Homo sapiens: one gene and its partner. The protein of the gene in region 1 purifies or fractionates together with the protein of each later gene. This does not show direct contact. Each region holds a gene or a part of one and is shown in the gene's direction. Other genes may lie near its edges.

The links.
Region 2: the proteins of HNRNPUL2 (region 1) and MOV10 purify together in Homo sapiens (affinity purification with mass spectrometry; 2 studies listed by BioGRID and IntAct, with this or other methods). This does not show direct contact.

The regions. Positions count from the first base shown.
Region 1 is NC_000011.10:62,711,844-62,717,668, reverse strand, and holds the end of HNRNPUL2 (heterogeneous nuclear ribonucleoprotein U-like protein 2), read left to right. Parts: intron 1-479; coding exon 480-680; intron 681-1,731; coding exon 1,732-1,805; intron 1,806-2,061; coding exon 2,062-2,169; intron 2,170-2,289; coding exon 2,290-2,370; 3' UTR 2,371-5,039; downstream 5,040-5,825.
Region 2 is NC_000001.11:112,698,375-112,701,239, forward strand, and holds the end of MOV10 (helicase MOV-10), read left to right. Parts: coding exon 1-104; intron 105-263; coding exon of another isoform or gene 264-299; exon of another isoform or gene 300-340; coding exon 341-415; exon of another isoform or gene 416-439; intron 440-1,083; coding exon of another isoform or gene 1,084-1,197; exon of another isoform or gene 1,198-1,310; coding exon 1,311-1,436; intron 1,437-1,519; coding exon 1,520-1,608; intron 1,609-1,844; coding exon 1,845-1,966; intron 1,967-2,041; coding exon 2,042-2,133; 3' UTR 2,134-2,365; downstream 2,366-2,865.

The DNA.
Region 1 (5,825 bases):
GGCCAGGCTGGTCTCGAACTCCTGACCTCAAGCAGTCCGCCTGCCTTGGCCTCCCAAAATGCTGGGATTACAGGCGTGAGCCACCATGCCCGGCCATCTCTGAGTCTCTTTTTAAAATGTTATTTCTTAGCATCTTATCTGACCAACACCAGAACTTTCTCAGTTACTTTTAGCCTCTGGTTACCTGCTTCTGTCCTGATGAGAAACTTTAACCCAGTTCACTCCTAATTTATTATAGATCACTTAAGAACTTGTAAATCTACATAGCCCTTTGCCTGGGTCTGTTACAATTTAGGGAAAACTTAGAGTAGAAAAAGTTAATGTCATTATTTAGATGCGAGTGGGTATAAACGTAGCACATTTTTGTGCAGTAATAGATGAGGCATAGAAAGTCATATGCTTCTTGTAGAGTTTTCATAATGAGTTCTTACCCATCTATGCACTTTTCAGGCCCACAAGCTTCTCTCTTACTCTTATAGCCAACTTCTCTTTGCCTGAAAAATGCGACTATATGGATGAGGTGACATATGGGGAGCTGGAGAAGGAGGAAGCTCAGCCCATTGTCACTAAGTACAAGGAGGAGGCAAGGAAGCTTCTGCCCCCCTCCGAGAAGCGGACAAATCGCCGAAACAACCGAAACAAGCGTAACCGGCAGAACCGAAGCCGGGGCCAAGGCTATGGTGAGTCTTGGGGACCTGCCAGCCCCCTACTTCAGTCCATTCTTTGTGCTTAGTACAGCAAGATGTGCAAGGGAAGGCCAAGGAAACCAAGTCAGGTCATTAACAATACGGAAGTGCCTTCTTCATGGAGCTTATTTCTTCCTGTGTTCTTTATCCCTGCCTTTTTCTTGTGCTTTTTCCATAATTCTTCAACAACAACAAAAATCCTCTTTTTTAAAAAAGAGTTACTTTTCACAAAAGTATTTGTTTCTTTGAAAAGCAATGCTTGGGCTTTCTCATCTATCTAGTTTTCATTTTAACATATGGGTTCCCAGTGTCACTGTTCCTGTCTTATCTGAAGGATTTGTGCAGTGAAATCAAATTCTCATCTTCAGTTTTCTTGCTTCTGTGTCATTTCGATTAACAAGAAAGCGAATGCTTTATTCAGTGTTTTTTGTGGGGGGAAGAACTTAACCAAGCAAGTTAGGCTATTAGTAGAATTAATTTTCCCCCTGAATGTCTAGTTTGTCAGTTAAAACCCCAGTGTGCATTCACTGCTCTTTAAAAATGTGTGTGTATGTGTGTGTGTAACTGTTAAGTCAGCAGAATTTCCGAGTGCCTGCTATGTGCTAGGTACTGTAAATGCTGACAGTTCCCGCCCTTGAGGAGCTGATTACAGAGACTTTGTTTCTTTTGCATAAAATGATAGGTATGGGTTATACGATATCTGAAATCCCTTCCAGGGCTGAAAGTCTGATTCTATGAATGGCAGTTTTTCCTTATGTTTCTAACTCTGCCATGTATCCTTTTGCCATCTTAAATGTTTTGCAGGAATTGGGGAGCTTCAAAAACAAAGTGGCTTGGTTTTCTTGTGTCTCTGTTCCTCTGCCCTCCCCCCTCAGACTTTTTAAAAGTTCCTGGCTGGTGCTTTAATTAACATGTGTGAGCCTGGCCGAAGCAGGCCTCATATTCCCCCAGAATTGCCTTTGGCTCCAAGTTTTTGATTTCCACCCAGATGTGGAGCCAGGACCCCATGCCAGCTGTCTGAGCGCGCTCTCCATTTCTCTTCCAGTGGGCGGGCAGCGCCGAGGCTACGACAACCGGGCCTACGGGCAGCAGTACTGGGGGCAGCCTGGAAACAGAGGGGTGAGTGCAGCTCTCCTTCTGCTCCTCACTCTGGGCTGTGAGAGCCATTCTGTTGGCTTGGGGGAGCAGAGTGGTTTGCCTGTTTTCTTAGGGCTTAGGGTTTTGCCCATTTAATATGTTCTGGAAGATTTACTATGGGAAAATTAAACCAATTTATAATATCGAGCTAAGATGTGTCGCATTTAAAAGGGGGTCACGGTGGGTCATGCTGCCAAAAACCCATAAACCTTCACTCCTTTTTCTTTTCCTTTCTCAGGGTTACCGTAATTTCTATGATCGATACAGGGGAGACTATGATCGATTTTACGGGCGAGATTATGAGTACAACAGATACAGAGACTATTACAGACAATACAATCGGGATGTGAGTATCTTCTTGGGATAGACACAGGGTGAAGGGGGGCAGGAGCAGAAGGATGAGTGTTATGCCTCTTCATCCTCAGCCAGCTCTGGCTCCAAGTGATGGGGTTTCCCTCTCTTCTAGTGGCAGAGTTACTACTACCACCACCCCCAGGACAGAGACCGATACTACAGGAATTACTACGGGTACCAAGGGTATCGGTGAAGCCCCTGCCATGGTCACCTGTCAGCCATGAAGCTGAATCTCTGGGGGTGCCAGGCACCCCCGCAAAACACAACCAAGGAAAACAGGGGCTGTCGGGGTGGGGCTGAGCTGCCGGGGAGGGGTGGTGGGGGGGGAGGGTGCTCAAGCAGGGGTGGGGGAGGGGGGAGGTGGAAACAAACAACAAAACTGTACATTTTTTTTAAAGTTTGTTGAAAAGAATATTGTCTTATTCTATAAAACATTTCAAACCTAGTTAGAGATTTGTAATCAAAAAACATTTGCGCAGAAAGCAGCACTTAGGGCTGCCTGTTCTATACCCTACAGTCAGACAGGAAAAGAACTGAAAATGGCACCCTTCTGACATTCTGAGGCAGCTGGACTGGCAGCCAAGTAAAGGAGAGTGATGAGGTGGTGTGGGGAGGGTGGGGAGGCAGCGCGAGGGTGCTCTCCACAGCAGGTAGGAGCAGGCAGGAGTGGGGACAGAGGGAGAGCTTGTGACTGGGACAGTGAAAATAAACGATTGGCTCTTATCAATCACTTGCACCAACTAACCGTTTGTATTTTCTTTACCGACCTTTCCCTTTTGGGATATGTGGTCTGGTGGGCTGGGAGGCTTACAGTGTCCCAACTCTCCATTTTCCTGTGCCTTTGTGCTGTTTGGCTGAGGCATGGAGACTGCCAGTGGGTGGTTCTATTTTACAGGATTCCCAGGCCAAGAAAGCCTGGGGACTGTCCTTGATGGCAGAGCAGAATAGCCTGCCCCTTCTATAGACCCATTGATTAATTCCTGTAAAATCTTGGGGAGAATGGGATTGCAGCCCTCAGCCTAAAGATTGTGATTTGCCAGTCTCTAGTCTCTGTCTTCCAAGGTTGAGAGAGGTGGGAGGTCTCTGAAATCATCCCTGTTAGAGTGTCTGTCCTCTTACAGTGCGAGAGAAGGAACGTTTCTCAGGGTTTCAGCTCACACGAAAACACAGCAGGATTCTTTTCACTGCAGCGGGATATGTATATAGGTGAATCCTGTGGTGTGGGCTCACAGGCCCAGGTGCTGAGAATAGCAACTAGCAACTATTTTCTACAGTGTGGAGGGCTCGTGCCCTGCTGGTTTTTTTGATACACAGGTAGAGAATGAATAGAAGAGGGGAGGGTGGTGGGGGGGGGTGGGAGGCAGCTCAGTGGGGCTGCTGAACCTTGGGAAGAGTGTGAGTGTGAACGTGTGTAAATGTGCGTGTGAAAGGGAGCACCCCTTCCCGACTTCTAGAAACAAAATTCCTTTTGGGGCGCTTTCCCTGTGTGTCCCCAGAGAGGCCTCTAGCCAGGAGCCTTCAGTTGGGATAGTTTCATTTGTGACTTTACCAATACCCTCCCAGTTCTTGATAGACAGCTGTAGGTTGCTGGGTTCAAGAATATGGGTGGGATATGGAATGCTCTTTCAATGTCTAGCTTCAGTTTTCATTCATCCTCCTGCTCAGCACTGTCAGCCAAGAGCTTACTCAGCAGACACCACATACTGCAGCAGTTCCTAGTGAGAAAATCTGTGCCACTAGAAAATGCTTCACTTCCATTTCCTCACCTGGGCAGTTCTCTGTTTAAAATTGTGGGCTGATTTGGTCTTCCTCTCCTCCTCCCACTGTTACTGCCCTGCAGCCCTTGTTCAGGTGTACAGACCCTTATTCTGGCCTCTAGTGTCCTTGTCTGTCATGACACACCCTTCCGCCCAAATACCTCTGACCCCAAGGCTGGAATGGGGCTGGTAGGAGATAAGTTTGCTTACTCATAGTCATGTCCTTTCTCTTGGCACCTGCTTCCCTGCGGTGTCCTCAAATGGATTTCTGTGTGGCAGTGGAGTGATTGCATGAATTTTTCTGTAACACATTAACTTTGTATTATTATTAAGGGAGTTTGAGAAAGCTTTGCTTATAATGTCAAGGCAAGGAGGTAAAAACTGGAGCCCAAAGAAATTCCCTTAGGGCAAGATTATGTTATAATAGAAAATTGAATTTCCTGAGGCAGTGGCTGCCACCCCTTTTCAGATGTTTAGTCCTGCAAATAGCATCTTTCTTGTAGTCTGTGACATGGATGGGGATGCTAGGGCCCTTAGGGGCAAGGGGACTAAACTAAATCAAGTTGAGTTTTTTTCCAGCAGGGGTTAGGGGAGGTACTCGCTGTTGATATTTGACACTAGAAAGTAATCTTTTTTACAAAACTGTTTTTCTAGGTGGGTGGAAAGTGAAACTGCCACATCCTTGTTGGTTTAGTCCAAGAGATCATTTGCAACAACAGTAGATGTCCGGGTTTTGTTTCTGTCTTTTTATTATGAAAAACTATGTTAAGGGGGAAAATGTGGATTATGGTAACCAGAGGAATCCCTAGCCTTGTTTTCCTTAGAAGACTTGTTTAGTGTTTTATCAGACGTCTGTTGTAGTTGTAGACAGGAAAGCTTGTGAGAAAAACACCACATGGAGCCTGTAAATGTTTTTGCACAACCTGTAAAGCATTCTTGGAAGTGGCCAGTAAAAAGGGGTTTTACCATTTAAAAAAAAAATGTAACTGTGTCATTGTTTACATCTGTAACTTTTTCCTCCCCTGTTCTCATTACACCATTCTGGCGAAAATGTAGGCAAAGTAGCTTCCAGTTTTAGAATAAATAACCATTTGGATTGAATTCACCCTATCTCCTGTGGCTGCACTGACTGGGGCGGAGGGTGTCACTGGGTTATTTATTCATTTTTTAATGCCTCTTTCTCAGGTCGCATGGGCTCCAACCAAGGAGGACTCTCCTCTTGCATGGTGGCTGCCGTTCCCTCCCTATTCTACCATGCCTTCACTTGGGAGCCAGCCATGCAGTCAGTTGACATGGGTGGGTAGTTATTAGTCTATTTAGTGCTTGCTTAGGCCAAGAGTCGAGCCATTGAAGTATAGGAAAATAAATTATAACTCACGACCTCTGTATTTGGCCTATGCAAAAACTAGTTGGATGCTTGAAGTTAAATGTACATTGTGGAGCCAAATAAGTATATTCATGAATAATTACTGCTAGGGGGAAAGCCCACTCATTCAACAGAAGTTTGATGGGGGTTATTTTCCAGTGAATCTGGAGAACGAGACGGTAAATTAAATTTACAACAGCGCCATTGCTTTTTTATTTTTTATTTTTATTTTTATTTTTTTTTTTTGACAGAGCCTCGCTCTGTTACCCAGGCTGGAGTGCAGTGGCACGCTCTCGGCTCACTGCAACTTCCGCCTCCTGGGTTCGAGCGATTTTTCTGCTTCAGCCTCCCGAGTAGCTGGGACTACACATGTGTGCCACCAGGCCCAGCTAATTTTTTTTTTTTTTTTTTCCTAGTAGAGACAGGGTTTCACCATATTGGCCAGGCTGGTCTTGAACTCCTGACCTCGTGATCTGCCTGCCTCAGCCTCCCAAAGTGCTGGGATTACAGGTGTGAGCCTCCGCT
Region 2 (2,865 bases), on another chromosome or scaffold:
CAGTGACTTCCTACCTGAAGCTGCTCCTGGCCCCCTCCTCCAAGAAGGGCAAAGCTCGCCTGAGCCCTCGAAGTGTGGGCGTCATCTCCCCGTACCGGAAACAGGTCAGGTCCTCAGTTACCAGCAAGGGTGGGGCCCCTCCCCCAGATGGTACCTCCTTAATATCCAGACCACTAGGCAGAGGCTCCAGGAGCTTAGGCCTCTGCTGGCTCCGTATCTCAGAAGAGCACCAAGGTCAGCTGCCGCCTCCCTTTGTTCCCCAGCTCCCTGGCCTCCTGCCAGGCTCCCTCTTGCATTAGGTTAATGGCACGAGAGAAAGGCACCTGTCCCCTCCTTCCAGGTGGAGAAAATCCGTTACTGCATCACCAAACTTGACAGGGAGCTTCGAGGACTGGATGACATCAAGGACTTGAAGGTGACATGCTGTTCCACAGTCACTCCCTGCCTTCCGTGTGCCCCCACTTGCCCACTTCCAGAGACTTCCTCAAGCTTCCACTCCAGCCCACGTCCCCGTCCCACCCCTGCTGCCTTGAATAGAGCTCGAGCTCTCCCTGAGCCTCTCACTCCTGGAGATTCCAACTTAAGGGTCTGGGATGGGATCAGGAAGCCTGCATGTTTAACAAACACCTCCTGTCATTCTTAGACTGAGGCAGGTTTGAGGCCTCTGCCCTAAGGATAAAGTCCAAATTCCGTGGCCTGTCATGTGATGCTGCCACCCCCACCCCCAGTAGCCTCTCTCTTAAGGTTCTGGTCTCAACACTGGCTGCAGATAACAATCACCTGGAGAGCTTTTAATACCCCGCCCCCATGCCAGGGCCCCACCCACCAGCTCATACAGCTATCGGGGCAGAGCCAGGGCACTGGTAGTTTTTACAGCTTCTCAGGTGATTCTAATATGCAGCCAGGGTTGAAAACACTGCTCTAAGACTTACAGGCCTCTCTCTTGGAAATTCTGATCGGGGGTCCGGGTTAGGGCCCAGGGTTGTATATTCTTAACAGATACTTAGTGATTGTTTTCAGGAAAGTTTGAAAGTCACTGCTCTGAGTTCCCGTGTTCTTTGCAATGCTGTTTTCTTTCCTTAGAACACTTTGCAGGCCCCAGCCCTCAGCAGGATTCAACCTTCATGTTTCAGCTTCCACAGCCTACCTCCCATCCCCTTTCCCTGGGCCGTGTCGCAGCACTGGTTCACTCACTGATCTACAATTGCCCAGTGACCTCTCTGTACCCTCCTTGGAAGGCAAGCTCCCTGGGGTAGGGCACCCCTTTGACACCCCTGGCTGGTCTCAGGCCCTGCCTCTTTCCCCACTAGGTGGGTTCAGTAGAAGAATTCCAAGGCCAAGAACGAAGCGTCATCCTCATCTCCACCGTGCGAAGCAGCCAGAGCTTTGTGCAGCTGGATCTGGACTTTAATCTGGGTTTCCTTAAGAACCCCAAGGTTTGAGGGCTGGTCGGGGTGGCAGGAATTCTTCCATTCTCGGGGCTCTTCCCTCCCATGACCACACCACTTCTTCCTTCCAGAGGTTCAATGTAGCTGTGACCCGGGCCAAGGCCCTGCTCATCATCGTGGGGAACCCCCTTCTCCTGGGCCATGACCCTGACTGGAAAGTGTGAGCATTCCCACCCCATTCTCCCTCTTAGTGGCCACAGCCCCTGCCTAGGGCAGGTGGATCTTTTTTAAGCGCTTGCTTATCGCTCAGTTAATCCTCAGATGTGTCCATTTTCACAGCATCACTATTGTATTTATAAGTTAAATGACATCCAGAGGTTGAGCAAGTACAGCTCAGATGGGACAGGACCGTGGCTTAGCCTCCAGTCTCTGCTGGCACTCCTCTGTACCCCACAGATTCCTGGAGTTCTGTAAAGAAAACGGAGGGTATACCGGGTGTCCCTTCCCTGCCAAACTGGACCTGCAACAGGGACAGAATTTACTGCAAGGTCTGAGCAAGCTCAGCCCCTCTACCTCAGGTATGGCTGGGCCAGGGTGGGGACAGTGCCAGAGGAGGTGGTAAGGAAGACACAGTGTACTTTCTCTCTTTCCAGGGCCCCACAGCCATGACTACCTCCCCCAGGAGCGGGAGGGTGAAGGGGGCCTGTCTCTGCAAGTGGAGCCAGAGTGGAGGAATGAGCTCTGAAGACACAGCACCCAGCCTTCTCGCACCAGCCAAGCCTTAACTGCCTGCCTGACCCTGAACCAGAACCCAGCTGAACTGCCCCTCCAAGGGACAGGAAGGCTGGGGGAGGGAGTTTACAACCCAAGCCATTCCACCCCCTCCCCTGCTGGGGAGAATGACACATCAAGCTGCTAACAATTGGGGGAAGGGGAAGGAAGAAAACTCTGAAAACAAAATCTTGTTCTATGCAAAAGCCTTGATAATGTCTCCTCTGCCTGGCCCCAGCTTCCTGAGCCCCTAAGCTGACCCTGTAGGGAAGGGTGGGACTTTCAGCCCTGCTGAGGGTCACATCCCCTCCCAGCTGGAGAGGAACCCAGCCCCCACACTCGGGGGAGGAAACCCAGTGGGAGGTGGCAGGGAAGCCACCCACAGGTTTCTAAGTTTAGCCCCCTGCTACAGACCACTCCCTTCACCCGCCTCCTTGGCCCAGAGCCAGGCATGACCTCATCCTTTGCTCTAAGACTCCACCCTGCTGGCCACTGGCCTGCTTTGTAGACAGGGGGCCAGGCTGGCAAGCAACTTGGACATGAAAAGAGATGGGACACCAAGCACCCAGAGGGAAAGACCGAAAGCTGCCACACACGTTGGAGCCTGTAGCCTTTATTCATGCCCCCCTGACCAAATGCAGTGAGAGACAAGGCCCCTGCCGAAAACAACTCCAGGGGCCTGGGACTCTGGGTCCCCTACTGCAGA